Linked DNA regions of Homo sapiens: region 1 is linked to region 2. The links come from fine-mapping of genetic effects on gene expression. A gene starts in region 2. The other region holds a variant in brackets. All regions are shown on one strand. Distances are between the middles of the regions. Region 1 has its middle 34 kb from the start of CAMSAP2. Region 2 holds the start of CAMSAP2 (calmodulin regulated spectrin associated protein family member 2).

Evidence for each region. PIP is the estimated chance that this variant, and not a neighbour inherited with it, causes the effect.
Region 1: its variant is the best candidate, but not a certain one, in a credible set for the expression of CAMSAP2 in whole blood (TOPMed, PIP 0.58).

The regions. Positions count from the first base shown.
Region 1 is chr1:200,702,338-200,707,720 of GRCh38, reverse strand. No RefSeq gene overlaps it. Among named protein-coding and RNA genes, the nearest start is that of CAMSAP2, 34 kb to the left of the region's middle. The variant C/T (reference allele first, on the strand shown) is at 2,822.
Region 2 is chr1:200,735,721-200,741,103 of GRCh38, reverse strand. It overlaps CAMSAP2 (calmodulin regulated spectrin associated protein family member 2), which reads right to left and starts at 2,211. Exons shown (of 17, transcript NM_203459.4): 1 at 1,138-2,211. The coding sequence starts at 1,276. RefSeq lists silencers at 1,402-1,471, 1,502-1,861 and an enhancer at 2,502-2,581.

The sequences.
Region 1 (5,383 bases), 33 kb after region 2:
TCCTAGATATCTACATGGCAAACTCCTTCACCTCTCTCAAGTCTTTGCTCAAACATCCCCTTCTCAGTAAGTACTCTGCTTAAAATGGCAAATTCTTCCCACTCTTGGCACTCTCAATACCTTTTACCCTGCTGTAATTTTTTCCATAGCCCTTAATATCTTCTTAAATATTAAATACCATATAGCTTTCTTATTTACTTTGTCTATAGTTGTAGTTTTCCTTCATTAGACTCGAAGCTCCACATGTGTCATTCACTGCCATATCCTAATAGCACAGAACAGATCTTGGCATAGAATGGCACTCGATTAGTGTTGGTTGAATGAAGAAATGAATGGGTGAATAAATTAGCAAGGATTCTATTAGTTGACTTCTCTGTGGTACTTTGGAAATCACTAGATACTCTCAGTTCTGCTTGGCAATGTGTTATGTGAAGTGACAGCTGCTGCTCTGACTTGCTACAGCTAATGATGCTCAGAAATGGGCACTTCGTAGGATGTCCTTCTGCCTGCTGCACTTTCAGGTACCCCCACACTCAGTCATCGCAGTCACTCCATCTTGTATGCACTATTGCAGATCTTTGTTTCGAATCCAGTTGTCTTTTGTCTGGGCCATTGATCTTTTTGGCCCTCTATTTTTGCTTCCCGAGACTCCTTCATTGGGTCCCCCACCTCAGGCCCCCATTGCTGTTCACCTGTACCCCAGGCAGTTCTGATTTTGTACCCCCAAAATTCTAGCTGAGGTCAGAGCTCTGGACTCTCCACTACCAGGGAAGAAAAATTGGATATTTGATTCATTTCCCTACTTTTAAACAACCAGCAGGAAAATGAAGGGTTGGCTGATTTATCTGTGGAATAAGCAAATTCAGATTCAGATGATGACAAATAATCTAGACAATTCAGTTTCTGGGCTTGTTTTCCTGAATCATCCAGAGCATTAACACGGCAAATAAAACCCACCAGATAATCTTATTATCTTTCATCTTTTTCTCCATATCGTGGTAGTTTCTCAAGACAAAATATGGCTATTTGCTTTCTTTGAGAGCAAATGTCGATCTTGTACTTAATCTGCCTTCTGCTAAACTAGGGCACAGTAGACTCCTCCTTGTGACTAATAGAGATTCCAGAAATGGAAATTAGGATACAATTTTTAACCTTTACAGAATGAGAAGCCTTGGAGCTAAGCTTTCTTTACATTGTTTAAATCCTTGAAATAAGTCATAATTGCTTCATGGCCCAGCTATCTCATTCCTATAGGACCGAAATCTTACCAATCTTGATTTCTAGTTTGACAAGAGGATAAAAAAGAAAATCCTGTGAGAAGCTAGTATCCTTTTAGATAAGTTATTTCTGTGTCTCTCTGGAAATGATCTTGCAAAGGGCTAATGATACATAATCAGATTTACAGAGCAACATGAGTCACATCATCTCATTTGATTCTGCTAATATGCTTAGTGATTAGACAGAAAAAAATATATTGTTGTTCCCATTTTTAAAACAGAGAAAGTGGAACATAGCATTTTCAGAAATCTGGGCCACAGATCATTGGTAAAACAGTAAGCCTGTAGTTTTGATTCCCAGTTCATTAGGAAGTTAATGTAAGGGTGGCCAGGCGCAGTGGCTCATGCCTGTAATCCCAGCACTTTGGGAGGCCGAGGCGGGTGGATCACGAGTCAGGGGTTCAAGACCAGCCTGATCAACATGGTGAAACGCTGTCTGTACTAAAAATATAAAAATTAGCCGGGCGTGGTGGTGGGCGCCTGTAATCCCAGCTACTCAGGAGGCTGAGGCAGGAGAATTGCTTGAACCTGTGAAGCGAAGTTTGCAGTGAGCTGAGATCACACCACTGCACTCCAACCTGGGCGACACAGCGAGACTCCATCTCAAAAAAAAAAAAAAAAAAAGAAAAAGGAAGTTAACATAAGGGCAATAAGTATTAGGGAGAGGTCCCCAGGAAGAAGGTGAGAAGGACTGCAGAAAAGAAAGAACTGAATTATCAGCAACATAAACACCAGCAACAAATATTTACCTAGAATCGACTGCATGCTAAGTCTGGGGATATAATGAGACAAATAATAAGAAGAATAACCCTGCTGTCAAGGAATTTGTAGTGACATGTAGGGTATAAACATTAAAATAAATGGTGACATAAATGAGAAAGACTAGATGTAGGGTGACCACATTTTTCAACTGAAAATTAGGTTTTGTGATCTGAGGGTGCTTACAGAGACAGAATATTTTATTTCATTGCCAATCAGCAATATGGAACTCAGAGGAAGGAGTGATTCTTAAGAATCTGGGCTGGCTTGTTAGACAATCTTGTCTGATGCCATGGGCAACTCTAGCTAGGCCCCCACCCTATGAGGGGAGAGTTAAGCCACTAGTCTCTACTTTTATCTTGTATAACACAATTTCCTGAAGACATTTTCTCCCCAAAATGCTCCTGTATTTCACTGTGGCAGCAAGACATCCAGCTTCCAGATGGAAAAATGAGATGCCAGTCTCCTCTCCTGTAGATAGCGCCGATCTCTAAAGTAGATCATTTGGATCCCTTCCAAGTGGAACTGCTTCTTTTGACTTGCTGGTGGGAGAGGAAGCATGTTAATAAGGCATTCTAATTATACGAATTCTCTTACTACCAAGAAGCTCATTAATAAATCTCCCCTTTTCTTACCAACTTGGAGATGGGTAATAGTAGTGATTATTAAAGATCAGGAGCCCAGTGTGGTGGCTCATGCCTGTAAGCCCAAACATTTGGGAGGCCAAGGTGGGAGGATCACTTGAAGTTGGGAGTTCAAAACCAACCTGGGCAACAAAGCAAGAC[C/T]AGTCTCTGCAAAATGAATAAATAAAGAAACAAAAATTAGCCAGGCATGGTGGTGCGTGCCTGTAGTCCCAGCTACTTGGGAGGCTGAGGTGGGATGATCCACTGAGTCCAGAAGGTTGAGGCTGCAGTGAGCCGTGATGTGGCCACTGCACTCCAGCCTGGGTGACAAAGCGAGACCATGTCTCAAAAAACAAAAAACAAAGATCGGTTTGGTCACCTTTTAGTAAGTCTTGCATGAATGTATCTAACATCTCTCTTTTGAACACAGGGGCATTTGTCACCTGTCATCCACAGCTTTGAGGCTGGTGCTGAAATTTTCAGACAAGAAAATCTCTTTCCACATCCAATGACATGGGCAATGGGAGTCTGAGGAAGGGGAAGACATAAGGAAAGGGAATACACTTAAATTTTTCTGTTTTACAATTTGCCTAAGGCCCTGGTGGTCTTCCTACAGGCCTCAGCAAACTGTCTTAAATGATGAGTTTGGCTCTGCCTGGTGCTGTGGCTGCCTGAGTTAATACAGGTAGTGCCCACAGGCCTGAATAGTCGCTGCTGTGTGTTACAGGCAGCATCATATTCCCATCCACACTGAGTCAGTCTCTTTCTTGCTTTGCATTAGGGAGCATTGCTTTGCTTTATTTTTTCAGTCGCTATCTAATATTCTTTCAAGATGAACTTAAATACATATTTGTGCACCTAAATTTGAGTATTATTTTCTTTCTGTGTTATGTTTTTTGAGATGGAGTTTTGCTCTTGTTGCCCCAGGCTGGAGTGCAATGGTGCAATCTCGGCTCACTGCAACCTCCGCCTCCCAGGTTCAAGGGATTCTCCTACCTCCGGAGTAGCTGAGGTTACAGGCATGTGCCACCATGCTTGGCTAATTTTTGTATTATTAGTAGAAACGGGGTTTCACCATGTTGCCCAGGCTGGTCTTGAACTCCTGACCTCAGGTGATCCACCTGCCTCGACCTCCCAAAGTGCTGGGATTACAGACTTGAGCCACCATGCCCAGCCTAAAGTAATTTTTTAAGCCAATATGTGACTGTATACTGTCTCCAAAATGGACATTTAGCATATTCCTCTGATATGTGCACTCCATGCAGATTGTGGTAAACATTTGACGTATTGAAGGGAAAAACTTGGGCTTGGCTTAAAAAAATTCTCCATTTGATTTTTTGAACATTACAGCAGTAACCCATGCTTGCAATAACAAGTAAAATTACATGGTACAAACATATATAAAAGATGAAGCTAATGATCTCTTCTTCTATTTATGTGGTATAATTTGCATAATAAGACACAGGGTCTGACTGTATTTTTTTTCCAGATGGATAGACAGTCCACCTATAGCTACATGTCTTCAATAACAGATGGCATTTATTTCTCTCATTTTTCATGCCCTTTGAAATATTTTAAAAGTTCAGGCCAGGCACGGTGGCTCATGCCTGTAATTCCAGCACTTTGGGAAAGTCCCGCTGAGGTGGAAGGATGGCTTGAGCTCAGGAGTTTGAGACCAGCCTGGGCAACAAGAGTGAGACCTTGTCTCAAAAAAATAAATAAAAATAAAAACTTAGAAGCTATCTATTTCTAATTGAAATTGTAATGAGATAATCATAGATTAACATGCAGTTATAAGTAAAAATACAGAGAGATGCCTTGTACCCTTTGCCCAATTTCCCCAGTGGTAACATTATGGAAAACTACAGGACGATATCAGAACCAGGATATTGACATTGTACAATCCACCAATTTTATTCAGGCTTTCCCAGTTTTCCTTACTTGTATTGATTTTTGTGTATGCCTGTGTGTGTGTGTGTGTGTATATTTAGTTCTGTATAATATTATTCCATGTGTATCCACCATCATAGTCGAGATACTGAAGTTTCACCACCCCAGTAATTTTTCATGTTGCTCGTTTATGACACCAACCTCCCTACCCCTGTCCTTAACCCCTGGCAACTGCTAAACTGTTCTTTATTTCTTAATTTTTTTCATTTCAGAAATGTCATATAAATGGACTTATATAGTACGTATCCTTTTGGGTTTGGCTTTTCTTCCCTCAGCATAATTCCCTGACGACTAATCCAAATTATTGTATCTATCAATAGTTTGTTCATTTTTATTACTGAGTATTAGTCCATAGTGTGTATACACCACAACTTTAAACATTTTTAAATTGACAAATAAAAAGTATATATTTGTATGTATAATATGATATTTTGAAATATCTATACATTGTGTAATGACTAAATTGAGCTACTTAACATATGTATTATCTCACAGACACATTTTTGGGGGGCAAGAACACTTAAAATCTATGCAGCAATTTTCAAGTATACAATATATATTATTAACTATAGTCACCGTGTTGTACAGTCTCTTGAAACCTTATCCCTCCTGTCTAAATGAACTTCTGTATATTTTGACCAACATCTCCCCAATCTCCCCCACCCCTTTAGCCCTGGAAACGACCATTCTACTCTCCACTTCAATGAGTTCAACTTTGTTAGATTCCACATGTAAGTGAGATCCTGTGGTATCCGTCTTTCTGTATCTGGCTCA
Region 2 (5,383 bases):
CTCAGCTGTGTAAGTTTAAGCAGTAAAACTGAACTAAACCATTTACCAAAACATTACATAGTCCTAAAATTGGAAATTAGTCACCCTCCCCCTGAAAAACCCTATATTTAACATGTGGAAATTTGTGAGTACTAGGGAACTTTTCAACAAATATTTCATATATCTAAACTTCATTAACTAGGGAACAGAAATCTTGTAAAATTACTCTTAAAAGTTACCAAATTACAGAAGCATCTTCCAATGAAAAGCAGCTCTCTAATTTTTTTAACATTTCACAACATGGGCTCCTAAAGCAACACTAAAGAATCATAACGGGAGGCCCTTTTCCTGTTATTTTGCAAAGACTGGGTTATGGAGGGAGTGTTTAACTGCTACTGTACTATACAATTTCTGTGTCAACAGCACACGCCTTCGAAAAACTCATCTATTAAAAAACTTCCCAAAGTAGGGAGTTTTTGTTTCTTTTAATTTATGAAGCCAAAATACATTTGGAAAAAAGAATATGCCTCACTGATAATATGAAATGAAAACTGCACCCTACAGTCAGCAAACTGAACGCTGGTTTTAAATAACTGATTTAATAAGAACTTAACATGCGTGCAGAAGGCTGATACAGCCTTAAAGAATGACAACAAAAATTAATACTGCACTCGACACAGGCCACCTTACATCCAACGGAGCCTGAATAGCAGCCATCATTACAAATGTCAAAATCAATATAGTACTATGCACCATCCACCTTCTTGCAATAATAAAGAAACCAACTCAGATTTCTTGGTGGTGTAATCACAATTATGACTGAGGCAGAAATGTACGCAACACAATGAAGAAAATACCACAAATCAAAACCACTCTATGTAAAAACATAAAATTGCTCACTGGGGGATGGGGGGGACATTTTGCCATCCAATAAAAGGAATCTGGCCAAATCCCACCTGACCATTCACGTGCCCTTCATTGAAGACCAAACCTGCTTTCCTTATTTCTCCTTTCTTTCTCTTCCTAGCCTCCCATCATCTCCCTTAACCTGTACGAGAAGACAGGCACGGGGAGGGAGGGATTCGAGAATCGGGAACAAAAACCGAGATGTGGACCACATCAGGAGGAAGAGGGGAGGGAAAGGGTGACACCACTAACCTGTCCCAAAGGCTTTGGCCACCAGCCAGGCCAGATTGCAGGCGATTTTGGCCCTGGAGAAATCATAGTGGTCAAAAGGCTTGATGGCTGGAACAATGAACGTCTTTCTCATCTCCCTGGGGTCTGCAGCATCCCCCATCTTTCACCGCGGCTCCTCGGGATGTCCCGGCCCTAACCTTCACATGGCGTGGCCTCGCCACCACGGGGGTCGGGAGGGAGGGAGAAGCAAGCTCAAACCATCGGGGCCCGGGCGATGTCCGCCCGGGCGCCGACGGAGGAGAAGCTCAGCTGTCCGCGCCGCGCGCCTGCCGCCTCCCGCGGGAGCCGCCGCCGCCGCCGCCGCCGCTCCCGGGCATAGGAATGTGGCGGCGCCGTCTCCGTCCGTCCGTCCGCGCGAGGTCCGCCCCGTGCCCGCGCCCCTCCGAGCCACCCGCCCCGCGAGCCCGCGTGTGAGCGAGGCCGCCTCCCCTTTGTCTCGGTTTAGTCACACGGGCTTGGGGGAGGGTGGAGGCTGGAAGGGCCCGGAATTTTAAGGGAGGGGGGATGGGGGGAGCCTTCAACAATCACGTTGTGGAAAATGTCCCCGCCATCGCGATGCCCGCACGCCCTCGCCTCCCTCTCCCCTTCCCTCGGAGCGGGGAGACCCCTCAGGCCCCGGGTGGGCGGAGGGACGAGCAGGACGAGGGGGAAGCGCGGGGCGAGCTGGCCCACCCAGCGCAGCCCGGCCCCTGCCCGCCGGAGACGCAGCAGCGGAAAACGTCAAAATCACTGCGGCTCACAGGCCGCCGCCGGCCCGTCCCCTCCTCTGTGCTCCCTCCCGTCGCCGTCTCCTCCTTCCCCTGCCGCCGTCGCCGCTGCCGTCTCCCGGGTCTTCCTCCCTTGCTGACGGCGAAGGTGGTGGCCGGGGAGAGGCCGCGAATCCCAAGCTCTCAGTTCCTGTCTTATCAGTAATGTCCTTGTAATTTTTTCCTGCCCCCCTTTCTGCAGCTCGCTGGATCGTTCCCCCTCAGCCGCCGCCGCCGCCGCTGCGGTTTTCCGGCTGCGGCACTGGATGAAGGAGCAGATGCGGAGACTGAGCATGCGCCTTCGCGCGGCTCCGACCCACCCCCCCCAACCCCCGCCCCCGCCCCCGCCCCCTCCCCGCTTCCCTCCCGTCTCCGGCCCACTGAGCATGCCCAGCCTCGCTCCCCGCCCGCGCCCGGGATTCGGGGCGGCTGCCTTTTAATCATCGCTCTGGAGTACTCGCTTCAGTGGACATCCTCCACGTCCCTGGCTTTTGGCTGCTGCTGCCTGCACTGCTGAGAGAGGAAAAGGAAGGGAGGGAGGAGGGAGAGGCCTGGCAATAGCTTTCGTATTCTACTTACACAGTGCTTCATCGAAAAGAGTTGATATTTACTTAAAATGTTCATTATGTGACACACACTTTGCAGCGAACTTGACCTGCACTATCTCATTTAGCCCTCGCAATAATCCTGAGAGGTAGATGTCATTGCTGATTGTCCACGAAAGAGAGGTGGAGTTGATTAGGTCATACATGGAACTTAACCAGGATTGAGGATCTGTGGGGGCTCCAAACCTGTGTTAATTTCATGATATCGAGATATTTTCTTAACTCAGTGCTCTCCACTTAAATTTTATCTCTGAGAGGGCACACGTCCAACAATGCCTCCCCATTCTCTCAGAAAAGAGCATAAATTCTTTCACAAAACAAGCTAATGCCCTTTGTGATCTGGCATCTACAGGCCTTTATAGCTTCATTTTGTCAGAACTGCTCTCTATTTTCTTCAATGAGCATGCCTTCTCAGATCTCTACCTCCTTGCTCAGGGTGGTTCCTCTGTCCACCCAGCTTACTCCTACTGCACCTTCAAACTCCACAGTAGTCACTTCCTCCATGAAGCCTTCCCTGACAGCTGCTGACAACTTTCCAGTCAGGGCTGTCACACAGGTGCCTCCCCTGTTGTTCCCGGAGCACCCTGTTCTTATTTCTGTCGTAGCATCTGTCACATCGTGTGGCAATAATCAGTTACTTGTCGGTTTTTCCCATTGATGACATGATGACAGGGTATATCTCCAGCAGCTATACGGTGCCCAGCCCCATAGTATAATTGCTCAATTAATGGACTACATGTGAATATTATCAAAGTTAACACATACTGAGCTTACTTAAATCACTAGCTCCTCACGTCTCATTTTAATACATTATCTAATTTTATTTTTAAGTGATTGTTGTTGTTATTATTATTATTATTGAGACGGAGTCTTGTTAAGTCGCCCAGGCTGGAGAGTGGTGGCAAGATCTCAGCTCAGTGCAATCTCCACCTTTAGGGCTCAAGCGATTCTCCTGCCTCAGCCTCCTGAGTAGCTGGGACTACAGGCGCGCACCACCACGCCCAGCTGATTTTTTGTGTATTTAGTAGAGATGGGGTTTCACCATGTTGACCAGGCTGCTCTCGAACTCCTGACCTCAGGTGATCCGCCAACCTCAGCCTTCCAAAGCGCTGGGATTACAGATGTGAGCCACTGCGCCCAGCCTATTATTATTATTTTTTGAGACAGGGTCTTGCTTTGTTGCCCTGGCTGGAATACAATGGCAAAATCACAGCTCACTGCAGTCTCAACCTCCCAGGCTCAAGCAATCCTCCCATCTCAGACTCCCATATAGCTGGGATTACAGGCACACATCACCACACCCAGCTAATTTTGTTTATTTTTTGTAGAGATGAGGTCTCCCTATGTTGCCCAGGCTAGTCTCAAACTCCTGGACTCAAGGGATCCTCCCACCTCAGCCTCCCAAAGCGCTAGCATTATCTAATTTTAATCATTATAAAATCCTGTATTATCTTCATTATACAGATGAGAAAACTAAGGCTCAGAAAAAAAAATTAATTACTCTTATTCTGCACAACTAGTAAAGGCAGAGGGCAGCTCCATCAAAAAGCAGGTCCCTTTGTTTCTGTTTAATCCCTGTAAACACTCCTCCTTAAACCTAGTAGGACACAACAGATGAGGCTTGCTAACAATGTGGGATATGAAAAGAATTTGAAAATAATAATATGCCAGAGGGTGGTTGATGTAATTTTTCCAATAATTTAATTAATATTAATAGGGTTTTTCTCATGGGCAAGGAAGGCCCTTTGCTGTATCACATGGAGGTTAATAAAATTAACAGATAGATAACAACTCACAAAGCATGTTCATATGATAACTAATTTCCATATCTATTTTATGAAGTAGGAATTATTATTGTCTTCCAATTCTAGATGCAGGACTGAGAATTGCAAAGATTAAGTGGCATGGCCAAGATTTCATGGTTGATTCATATCTGAGTCTGGCTTCAAATTCAAGCACAGGTCTTCTGGCTCCACTCCTCTGGCACTTTTCCCTGTGCCTGCTCTCTTTCCGCATTATGGAGGCTAACATGTACATAAATAAATTTATAATACAATGTAAAAGTGATAAGTGCTGTAAGAGATATAAAGTGCAGTCAGGGGCCAAGCACAATGGCTCATGCCTGTAATCCCAGCATTTTGGGAGGCTGAGGCAGGTGGATCACTTGCGGTCAGGAGTTCAAGACCAGCCTGGGAAACATAGCAAAAACCTGTCTCTACTAAAAGTACAAAAATTAGCCAGGCCTGGTGGCACACACCTGTAATCCCAGCTACTCATGAGGCCAAGGCACGAGAATTGCTTGAGCCCAGGAGACAGAGATTGCAGTGAGCAGAGATCGCACCACTGTACTCCAGCCTGGGCAACATAGCAAGATTCTGTCTCAAAAAAAAAAAAAAAAAAAAAAAAAAAAAAGGCCGGGTGCGGTGGCTTATGCCTGAAATCCCAGCACTTTGGGAGGCTGAAGGAAGGTGGATCACAAGGTCAGGAGTTCGAGATCAGCCGTGCCAAGATGGTGAAACCCCATCTCTACTAAAAATACAAAAATTAGCTGGGCGTGGTGATGTGCGCAAGTAGTCCCAGATGCTTGAGAGGCTGAGGCAGGAGAATTGCTTGAACCTGGGAGGCGGAGGTTGCAGTGAGCTAAGATCATGCTACTACACTCCAGCCTGGGCAACAGAGCGAGAATCCATCTCAAAAAAAAAACAAAAACAAAAAACAAACCAAAAAAAGCTTGCAGGCAGACCATATATAGGTGGAGGGATTGGGAAGGTTTCTTGGAGACATCTGTTGAATCTAATGTTCTCAAATGCAACTTTGACTGAATTCTAGAGCACATAAATCATGTTAGGAAGAACC